Homo sapiens: one gene and its partners. The protein of the gene in region 3 interacts with the protein of the main gene of each other region in a pairwise test. Each region holds a gene or a part of one and is shown on either strand. Other genes may lie near its edges. The genes, in order: SETBP1, GABPB1 and YAF2.

Region 1 (3,654 bases), on a different chromosome or scaffold from region 3:
TGAGACTTTTGATGTCAAATATTAAGTAGCTTCAACATGCTCATCTTTGTTTCTCTCTCTCTGTCTCTCTCCCTCTCCACTCCACCCACCCTTAGGCTTACGAGAGGCCCCAGAAACATTCAACTCTCCATTATGACACGGGCCTCCCACAGGACTTCACCGGTGACACCTTAAAACCAAAGCACCAGCAAAAAAGCAGCAGCCAGAACCACATGGACTGGTCCACCAACTCTGACAGCGGACCCGTCACTCAGAATTGCTTCATCAGTCCAGAGTCTGGCAGAGAAACTGCAAGCACCAGCAAGATCCCCGCTCTTGAGCCCGTGGCTTCCTTTGCAAAGGCCCAGGGTAAGAAAGGCAGTGCAGGGAACACGTGGAGTCAGTTGTCTAACAATAACAAAGATCTGCTCTTGGGAGGTGTGGCTCCATCCCCAAGCAGCCACAGCTCACCAGCCCCACCCAGCAGCTCTGCTGAGTGCAACGGGCTTCAGCCCTTGGTGGATCAAGATGGAGGAGGTACAAAGGAGCCCCCAGAACCACCTACGGTGGGCAGCAAGAAAAAGTCCAGTAAAAAAGATGTGATAAGTCAGACCATACCAAACCCAGACCTGGATTGGGTCAAGAATGCCCAGAAAGCATTTGACAATACAGAAGGGAAAAGGGAAGGTTATTCCGCAGATAGTGCCCAAGAGGCATCACCAGCCAGGCAGAACGTGAGTTCTGCCAGTAATCCTGAAAATGACTCAAGTCATGTCCGGATTACTATCCCCATCAAGGCACCCTCTCTGGATCCAACCAACCATAAGAGGAAAAAAAGACAGTCCATTAAAGCGGTGGTGGAAAAGATCATGCCAGAGAAAGCCTTGGCTTCTGGAATCACCATGAGCAGTGAAGTAGTTAACAGGATACTTTCCAACTCTGAGGGGAATAAGAAGGATCCCCGTGTCCCTAAGTTGAGTAAAATGATAGAGAATGAGTCCCCCTCAGTTGGCCTTGAAACTGGTGGAAATGCTGAGAAAGTTATCCCAGGAGGTGTGTCTAAGCCGCGGAAGCCACCCATGGTCATGACACCTCCAACGTGCACAGATCACTCTCCATCCAGAAAGCTGCCAGAAATCCAGCATCCAAAATTTGCTGCAAAACGAAGGTGGACTTGCAGCAAACCAAAACCTAGCACCATGCTTCGAGAGGCAGTTATGGCCACCTCTGATAAACTGATGCTGGAGCCCCCGTCTGCATATCCCATCACCCCATCCAGCCCTCTCTACACCAACACAGACAGTCTTACTGTGATCACTCCAGTCAAAAAGAAGCGGGGACGACCAAAGAAGCAGCCTTTGCTCACAGTCGAGACGATTCATGAGGGAACTTCCACCAGCCCCGTCAGTCCCATCAGCCGAGAGTTTCCTGGCACTAAGAAAAGAAAGCGACGACGCAATTTAGCGAAGTTGGCCCAGCTAGTGCCGGGAGAGGACAAACCCATGAGCGAGATGAAATTTCACAAGAAAGTTGGAAAGCTCGGCGTGTTGGATAAGAAGACCATCAAAACTATCAATAAGATGAAGACACTCAAGAGGAAAAACATCTTGAATCAGATCTTGTCCTGTTCCAGCAGCGTTGCTCTGAAGGCAAAAGCTCCCCCAGAGACCAGCCCTGGGGCAGCAGCCATTGAAAGCAAACTGGGCAAGCAGATTAATGTCAGCAAGAGGGGAACCATCTACATTGGCAAGAAGCGGGGCAGGAAGCCAAGAGCAGAGCTGCCACCCCCATCCGAAGAACCCAAAACAGCCATCAAGCACCCCAGGCCTGTTTCTAGCCAGCCGGATGTTCCAGCCGTGCCTTCCAACTTTCAGTCACTTGTGGCGTCTTCACCAGCAGCTATGCACCCACTTTCAACACAGTTAGGTGGGTCCAATGGCAACCTGAGCCCTGCCAGCACTGAAACCAATTTTTCAGAGTTGAAAACTATGCCAAATCTCCAGCCCATCAGTGCTCTTCCAACCAAAACCCAAAAGGGAATACACAGTGGAACCTGGAAGCTGTCTCCACCCAGACTGATGGCCAACTCCCCTTCACACCTGTGCGAGATTGGCTCCCTAAAGGAAATCACGCTGTCCCCTGTGAGCGAGTCCCACAGTGAGGAGACGATCCCCAGCGACAGCGGCATTGGGACAGACAACAACAGCACTTCTGACCAAGCGGAGAAGAGCTCAGAATCCCGAAGGAGGTACTCTTTTGATTTCTGCTCCCTGGACAACCCGGAGGCCATTCCGTCCGACACCAGCACAAAGAACCGGCATGGCCACCGGCAAAAGCATCTCATTGTGGACAACTTTCTGGCCCACGAAAGCCTCAAGAAGCCAAAGCACAAGAGGAAACGGAAAAGCCTGCAAAACCGCGATGACCTCCAGTTTCTGGCAGACCTGGAGGAGCTAATCACCAAGTTCCAAGTGTTCAGAATCTCCCACCGGAGTTACACCTTCTACCACGAGAATCCATATCCCAGCATTTTTCGGATTAATTTTGATCACTATTACCCGGTGCCATATATCCAGTATGACCCGTTGCTCTATCTTCGTAGGACTTCAGACTTGAAGTCAAAGAAGAAGCGTGGTAGGCCTGCAAAAACCAATGACACCATGACAAAGGTGCCTTTTTTACAAGGGTTCAGCTACCCTATTCCCAGTGGAAGTTACTATGCACCCTATGGAATGCCTTACACATCAATGCCTATGATGAACCTTGGTTATTACGGTCAGTACCCAGCTCCTTTGTACCTATCGCACACGCTTGGAGCAGCTTCCCCATTCATGAGGCCAACAGTGCCACCACCTCAGTTCCACACAAACTCCCACGTAAAGATGTCCGGTGCAGCTAAGCATAAAGCCAAGCATGGAGTACACCTGCAGGGACCTGTTAGCATGGGCCTTGGTGACATGCAGCCTTCTCTGAACCCTCCCAAGGTAGGCAGTGCCAGTCTGTCCAGTGGTCGGCTCCATAAGAGGAAACACAAACACAAGCATAAGCACAAGGAAGACCGGATCCTAGGGACCCATGACAACCTGAGTGGTCTTTTTGCAGGCAAAGCCACAGGCTTCTCCAGCCACATCCTGAGCGAGCGGCTGAGTAGCGCAGACAAAGAGCTCCCGCTGGTGAGTGAGAAGAACAAGCATAAGGAGAAACAGAAGCACCAGCACAGCGAAGCCGGCCACAAAGCTTCTAAGAACAACTTTGAGGTGGACACCCTGTCTACACTGTCACTTTCCGACGCCCAGCATTGGACACAGGCCAAGGAAAAAGGAGACTTGAGCAGTGAGCCTGTGGACTCATGCACGAAAAGATACTCTGGCAGTGGCGGGGATGGTGGCAGCACGAGATCAGAGAACCTGGACGTGTTCAGTGAAATGAACCCTTCGAATGACAAGTGGGACAGTGACGTGAGTGGGAGTAAAAGGAGGAGCTATGAAGGCTTTGGAACGTACAGGGAAAAGGACATCCAAGCCTTCAAGATGAACCGCAAGGAGAGAAGTTCTTATGACTCCTCCATGTCTCCAGGTAAGGCTGTTTTTCTTCAGAAATGGATTATCAAGTTATTTCATTGCTGGGCTTTGCACCTCAGACACATCTGTGGCACATTGTGTTCACTAGTTTGCA
Region 2 (3,654 bases), on a different chromosome or scaffold from region 3:
TATCACATAAAAAATTCCTGATATGAAATTATTAGTTCTGTGCTTTAAAGCAAGAACAAATAATGTAGTCAATTATTTATATGTATATGTTAAATAGATGTTCCAGGCCAGGTGCAGTGGCTCACGCCTGTAATCCCAGCACTTTGGGAGGCCGAGGCGGTTGGATCAGCTGAGCTCAGGGGTTTGAAACTAGCCTGGGCAATATGGCAAAACCCCATCTCTACAATACAAAAAATTAAGGGCCGGACATGGTGGCTCACACCTGTAATCCCAGCACTTTGGGAGCCCAAGGCAGGCGGATCACAAGGTCAGGAGTTCGAGACCAGTCAAGCCAATATGGTGAAACCCCATCTCTACTAAAAATACAAAAATTAGCTGGGCATGGTGGTGGGCGCCTGTAGTCCCAGCTACTCGGGAGGCTGAGGCAGGAGAATCACTTGAACCCAGGAGGTGGAGGTTGCAGTGAGCTGAGATCGTGCCACTGCACTGCAGCCTGGGTGACAGAGATTCTGTCTCAAAAAAAAAAAAAAAACAAAAAGAAAAAATGCTGTAGTCCCTCATCATAAGATAGACCAAGGTCCAAGAAATCAATTAGCTGATTTAACTAAGAATATACCTAAATGAAGTTTTGTCCCTCATGAAATGAAAGCTATAAGACAATTTTCATTTAATGGGCTTATACACACAAAAAATGAAATACTATAGATAAAATACTAAGTAGGCATTTAACAAAAACTAGTTCCCTCTCCTTCTTATAAAACCGTAAAGTATTTTAAAAGCAAAGTGCAAAAAGAGAACACATACCTTAAGTAAAACCTCTACTATGCTGGCATGGCCCTCAGAAGCTGCCATATGTAATGGTGTTCGGTCCACTTTGGTTCTGGCATCTCTGCTCACACCAGCTCGCAGCAGTACCTCTGTGGTGGAATAATGACCATACTGTGCTGCTAGATGAAGTGGAGAAGTTCCCAGCTGTACCACAGAAAAAAAAAAAAATCCACATTTACATTATTGTTACTACACTTCTGTTTATATAGTAAACAGATTTTCTTTACATTATCTGTTTACATAGCAACTCAAAACTCAAAAGAAATGCCTAGATTCATGCTTATCACATCCTCTTCATAGACATCTTGAAGAATTCCCAAACACTCTCAATGAAGAAGAAAATCCAGTATTTCCTTTAATTCAAACTTTCTTTCTTCATTATTTTTTATCAGATAAACTGCCTGAACAAAATTAATTTCATTAGAAATTAAGATATAGAGGCCGAACGTGGTGGCTCACGCCTGTAATCCCAGCACTTTGGGAAGCCAAGGCGGGTGGATCACTTGAGGTCAGGAATTCAAGACCACCCTGGCCAACATGGTGAAACCCCATCTCTACTAAAAATACAGAAATTAGCCAGGCGTGGTGGCATGTGCCTGTAATCCCAGCTACTCAGGAGGCTAAGGCAGGAGAATCGCTTGAACCCAGGAGGCAGAGGTTGCAGTGAGCCGAGATCGCGCCACTGCACTCCAGCCTGGGTGACACAGCGAGATTTTGGTCTAAAGAAAAAAAAAAAAAAAAGAAATCAGAGATAGAGTTTGAGAAATTTTTCTGTGTATTAGAATGTATTCCTCATACCAATCACACAAAACTTGCTAAGTTAACTTCGTCTGTAAAATTCATCTCAAATAAATGTAACAGTGTACATTTTTACTTTAAGTGGATCAAAATTGTTTTGTAGGTCTTAAAAAATTCACGTATTGAAACATCTCAGTGATCTTTTTAAAGGGATTTTTTTCAAAGGAAAAATCTTAGGTGCATTTGCCAAAGTTGAATCAGGACAAAACCAAAACAGAGCCCAATTCTCCTGAAATTGGTTCCATGTGGTCTAGTCATTAAATTGACATCCACAATACACAGAGGGAGTACTAAAATGTGAGGGAAGGAAGATTAAGTTCTATCACATGCATTTAAAGGCACAGAAAATCCCTATAACCCTCTGATTACCACATCACTTGATATTCCAAAGAACTAAGATATTTGGACTAAGGAAATTTACACATATAAACAGTTTATTATGTTATGAAGAGATTAAGTGAGATATATGTATAAAGGTCCTTAGTCCTATCTCTCTATCTATCTATCTATAGATAGAGAGATAGATATATTTTTTGTTTGTTTGTTTGTTTAATTGTTGTTTGTTTAATTAGAGACAGGGCCTCACTGTGTTGCCCAGGCTGGGGTGCAATGGATATTCATAGGTACAATTATCACACACTACAGCTTTGAACTGCTGGGCTCAAGCAATCTGTCCACCTCAGCCTCCAGAGTAGCTGGGACTACAGGCACACACCAACAAACCCAGCTAAACCTTACATTTTTAAGAGAAGGTCATCCCAGCAGATCAAAGAAGATCCTTAAACAATCCTTTCTTTCTCCATGCTTTGTCAATTTTTCTTTAACTAGCCTTTTCTATACTCTTAAATTTCAGTATTTAATGAAAATATCTCAACAGCCCATTTAGCAACCAGGAGCTTTGCTCAGTTTGACATTAGGATCTACTTTTTTATTTTTGTCTTCTGAGACTTTCCCTTCTTGGTTATTGACACAAAATATATATACATATATGCAGGGTTTTTTGTTTTTTTCTGAGACAGGGTCTCACTCTGTCACTCAGGCTGGAGTCCAATGGGGTGATCACAGCTCACTGTACCTTCAAACTTCTGAGCTCAAGCGATCCTCCTCCCTCAGCCTCCCGAAGTGCTGGGATTATGGATATGAGCCACCACACCTGGCCATGTAGTTTTTGTAGCTTTTTGGGTTTTTTTTTATTCATTTTTTTAGAGTCAGCTTCTTGCTCTGTCGCCCAGGCTAGAATGCAGTGGAGCTATCGTAGCTCACTGTAACCTCTAACTCCTAGGCTCAAGCAATCCTCCCATCTCAGCCTCCAGAGTAGCTAGGACTACAGGCTGAGCCACCATGCCTGACTAATTTTTTTCTTTTTGTTTGAGATGGGGTCTATGTTGCCCATGCTGGTCTTGAACTTCTGGCCTCAAATAATCTGCCACCTCAGTCTCCCAAAGTGCTGGGATTACAAGCGTAAGCCACTGTGCTCAGCCAATATATGTAGTTTAAGGCAAACACCTGTGAATCAACACCATAGTCTAGAAATAAAACACTGCCAGTAATTTAAAATCTGGCCAGGCGCAGTGGCTCACGCCTGTAATCCCAACACTTTGGGTGGCCAAGGCAGGTGGATTGCCTGAGGTCAGGAGTTCGAGACCAGCCTGGCCAACATGGTGAAACCTCATCTACTAAAAATAAAAAATTAGCTGGGTGTGAGGGTGGGCGCCTGTTATCCCAGCTACTTCGGTGCCTGAGGCAGGAGAATCACTTGAACCCGGGAGGCAGAGGCTTCAGTGAGCCAAGATCATGCCACTGCACTCCAGCCTGGGCAACAGAGCGAAACTCTGTCTCAAAAAAAAAAAAAAAAAAATCTTCCCACATGCCACTCCCTGATCACAAGCCCCTCCCCCAGCCCCAGAGGTAACTAATATTTTGAATTTTGTGACAAGCATTACTTAGTTTTCTTTGTATCACTTATCCCTAAAAAATATACTTTGGTTTTGCCTGTTTTGAGTTTTATTTAAACAGAATTATACTGCA
Region 3 (3,654 bases):
CCCGGCCAGCCGCCCCGTCCGGGAGGGAGGTGGGGGGGGTCGGCCCCCCGCCCGGCCAGCCGCCCCGTCCGGGAGGGAGGTGGGGGGGTCGGCCCCCCGCCCGGCCAGCCGCCCCGTCCTGGAGGGAGGTGGGGGTGTCGGCCCCCCGCCCGCGCCAGCCGCCCCGTCCGGGAGGGAGGTGGGGGGGGGTCAGCCCCCCTGCCCGGCCAGCCACCCCATCCGGGAGGTGAGGGGCGCCTCTGCCCGGCCGCCCCTACTGGGAAGTGAGGAGCCTCTCTGCCCGGCCAGCCGCCCCGTCCGGGAGGGAGGTGGGGGGGTCAGCCCCCCGCCTGGCCAGCCGCCCCGTCCGGGAGGGAGGTGGGGGGGGGGGGTCAGCCCCCCCGCCTGGCCAGCCGCCCCGTCCGGGAGGTGAGGGGTGCCTCTGCCCGGCCGCCCCTACTGGGAAGTGAGGAGCCCCTCTGCCCGGCCAGCCGCCCCGTCAGGGAGGGAGGTGGGGGTGTCAGCCCCCCGCCCGGCCAGCCGCCCCGTCCGGGAGGGAGGTGGGGGGGGGGTCAGCCCCCCTGCCCGGCCAGCCGCCCCGTCCGGGAGGTGAGGGGCGCCTCTGCCCGGCCGCCCCTACTGGGAAGTGAGGAGCCCCTCTGCCCGGCCAGCCGCCCCGTCCGGGAGGGAGGTTGGGGGGTCAGCCCCCCGCCCGGCCAGCCGCCCCGTCCGGGAGGTGAGGGGCGCCTCTGCCCGGCCACCCCTACTGGGAAGTGAGGAGCCCCTCTGCCCGGCCACCACCCCGTCTGGGAGGTGTGCCCAACAGCTCATTGAGAACGGGCCATGATGACAATGGCGGCTTTGTGGAATAGAAAGGCGGGAAAGGTGGGGAAAAGATTGAGAAATCGGATGGTTGCCGTGTCTGTGTAGAAAGAAGTAGACATGGGAGACTTTTCATTTTGTTCTGCACTAAGAAAAATTCCTCTGCCTTGGGATCCTGTTGATCTGTGACCTTACCCCCAACCCTGTGCTCTCTGAAACATGTGCTGTGTCCACTCAGGGTTAAATGGATTAAGGGCGGTGCAAGATGTGCTTTGTTAAACAGATGCTTGAAGGCAGCATGCTCGTTAAGAGTCATCACCAATCCCTAATCTCAAGTAATCAGGGACACAAACACTGCGGAAGGCCGCAGGGTCCTCTGCCTAGGAAAACCAGAGACCTTTGTTCACTTGTTTATCTGCTGACCTTCCCTCCACTATTGTCCCATGACCCTGCCAAATCCCCCTCTGTGAGAAACACCCAAGAATTATCAATAAAAAAATAAATTAAAAAAAAAAAAAAACATTTAAATATCTACAATACTTCAGGTATTTTATTAGCTTCTGGGAATACCAAAGTGAATAAGACGGTCTCTGCCCTGTAGGGCAGATAAGTGTCTAGACAATTATACTACAATATATTTATTCTCCAGGAATAATTACATATACATACAGCCATGCATCATTTAATGACGGATATGTTCTGAAAAATGCATCGTTAGGTGATTTCATTGTCAGAACATCATAGAATGTATTTATACAAACCTAGATGGTACAGCCTACTACATACCTAGGCTATATGGTAGAGCCTATTGCTCTGAAGCTACAGGTGTACAGGATGTTACTATACTGAATGTTGCAGGTAATTGTAACACCATGGTAAGTATTTGTATCTAAACATAGAAAAAGTAGAGTAAAAATATAGTATCATTTTATGGGACTGTATATGTGGTCCCCCACTCACCAAAAATGTCATTATGGAGTGCATGACTGACTCTACATACATAGAATCAATATGATACCAAGGGGTGGAGGGATGGTAATCCTAGAGGGCTTCTTTGAAAAGTACCATATGGTGGCTTACGCCTGCAATCACAGCATTTTGGGAGGCTGAGGCAGGCGGATCACGAGGTCAGGAGATGGAGACCATCCTGGCCAACATGGTGAAACCCTGTCTCTACTAAAAATAAAAAAATTAGCTAGGTATGGTGGCACACGTCTGTAATCCCAGCTACTCAGGAGGCTGAGGCAGGAGAATCGCTCAAATCTGGGAGGCGGAGATTGCAGTGAGCCAAGATCGCGCTACTGCACTCCAGCCTGGCGACAGAGCAAGACTCCTTCAAGAAAGAAAAGAAAGAGAAGAAAGAGAAGAAAGAGAAGAAAGAAAGAAAGAGAAAGAAAAAGTACCATATGATAAAAATAATTCAGTGCTGACACAGCACAGGATTGGGATAAGCAGCAGGAAATGAAGCTAGGAAGGTAGTTTAGGGATAGATTATTATTATGGCCTTGAACACTATCCTAAGGATCTCAGCCTTTATTCAGCAGCCACTAATAGGACTCAATTTTTTTTTTAAATATACAGGGACCAACATAATCACATAGGTTTCAAAAAAGATAATGAAGATCATGTTAGTAGCATTCCAAAGGAGAGACCAATTTGTCCAATAGTTCATGACAGAAGTGATATGGGCTTCTGAACTGTAACTACATAAAAGGAAAAAGGATAGATTTAAGAGACAATCCAGAGAAAGGACATGAAGGAGGACTACAAATTAGAATCAAAGCTGAGACAATGACAGTTTCTAGCTGAGGTTCCAGAAAGGAGTTTATGCCACATACAAAGTAAAGAATATACAGATGCCAAGTTTGGGGAGGCAGAAATGGGTTTCAGAGATATACACAGAAATCTATGAAAAAGGAGTCTTAGAGACATGAAGGAAGTAGAGTTTCAATTTAAAAAGGGCCAAGAACATCAAATACTTTGGAGGCGACATCAACAGATGAGTGAGATTGGGCCACTGAGTTAAACAACTAGGATATTAGTTATCAGGCCTCACACTATAAAGGAAATAAAAAGAATACCTGCTGAAGTAAAGCCATTGCATGTAGAAACCCAAGCCAATAAACTCTAGACCAGCAGTTCACAAACTTTTTGGTCTTAGGATCATTTACACTCTTAAAATTTAAGAGTTTTTGTTTTTTGTTTTTCTTAATGTGGGTCATCTATCAATGTTTACTATATTAGAAATAAAAACTGATAAAAATCTAAATATATTAGTTCATTTAAAAAATAAATACATCACATATTAAATGACATATTTTTATTTTAAAAACTTATTATTTTCCAAAACAAAGATATTTTGTATGAAGAGTGGCATCGTATATTTTTGCAAACCTCTAACATCTGGTTAGTAGAAGACACCTGGATTGTCACATCTATCTCAGCATTCAATTTGTTGCAATATGTTGTTTTGGTCCAAAAATATTAAGAAAATCTGGACTCTCACAGATATACAGTTGAAAAGAGGTAAGTAGTTGAATAGCATTTTCAGATAACTATAGGTGTTATTCTTTGATACTACATAAAAACACAGTTGTTTCTCAAAGGTTAGTTGCAATATGAAATCTGAAACCACATCAATGAAGTTTTCAGTGTTCCCTTAAAATCTGTTGGTATTTTGTACTTTGATGGATTACCCATTACAGTTTTGTAAAATCATACATCGGTAACTAGGAACCATTTGTTTGCTGAGTTATGCGTAGCTTCCAAATGCTGACACATTTCATGGTGAAATATCAGAAATTATATTCATTGATACCACCACTAATCTTCTCAGAAAAGTCTTTATACACA

What was found.
Region 1: the proteins of YAF2 (region 3) and SETBP1 interact in binary tests that used the Homo sapiens proteins (3 or more experiments, as listed by UniProt).
Region 2: the proteins of YAF2 (region 3) and GABPB1 interact in a two-hybrid assay, tested with the Homo sapiens proteins (one study listed by BioGRID).

The regions. Positions count from the first base shown.
Region 1 is NC_000018.10:44,949,786-44,953,439, forward strand, and holds part of SETBP1 (SET-binding protein), read left to right. Parts: intron 1-95; coding exon 96-3,555; intron 3,556-3,654.
Region 2 is NC_000015.10:50,303,162-50,306,815, forward strand, and holds part of GABPB1 (GA-binding protein subunit beta-1 isoform beta 2), read right to left. Parts: intron 973-3,654; coding exon 805-972; intron 1-804.
Region 3 is NC_000012.12:42,228,116-42,231,769, forward strand, and holds part of YAF2 (YY1-associated factor 2), read right to left. Parts: exon of another isoform or gene 3,107-3,654; intron 1-3,106. UniProt on the Homo sapiens protein: Binds to MYC and inhibits MYC-mediated transactivation. Also binds to MYCN and enhances MYCN-dependent transcriptional activation. Increases calpain 2-mediated proteolysis of YY1 in vitro.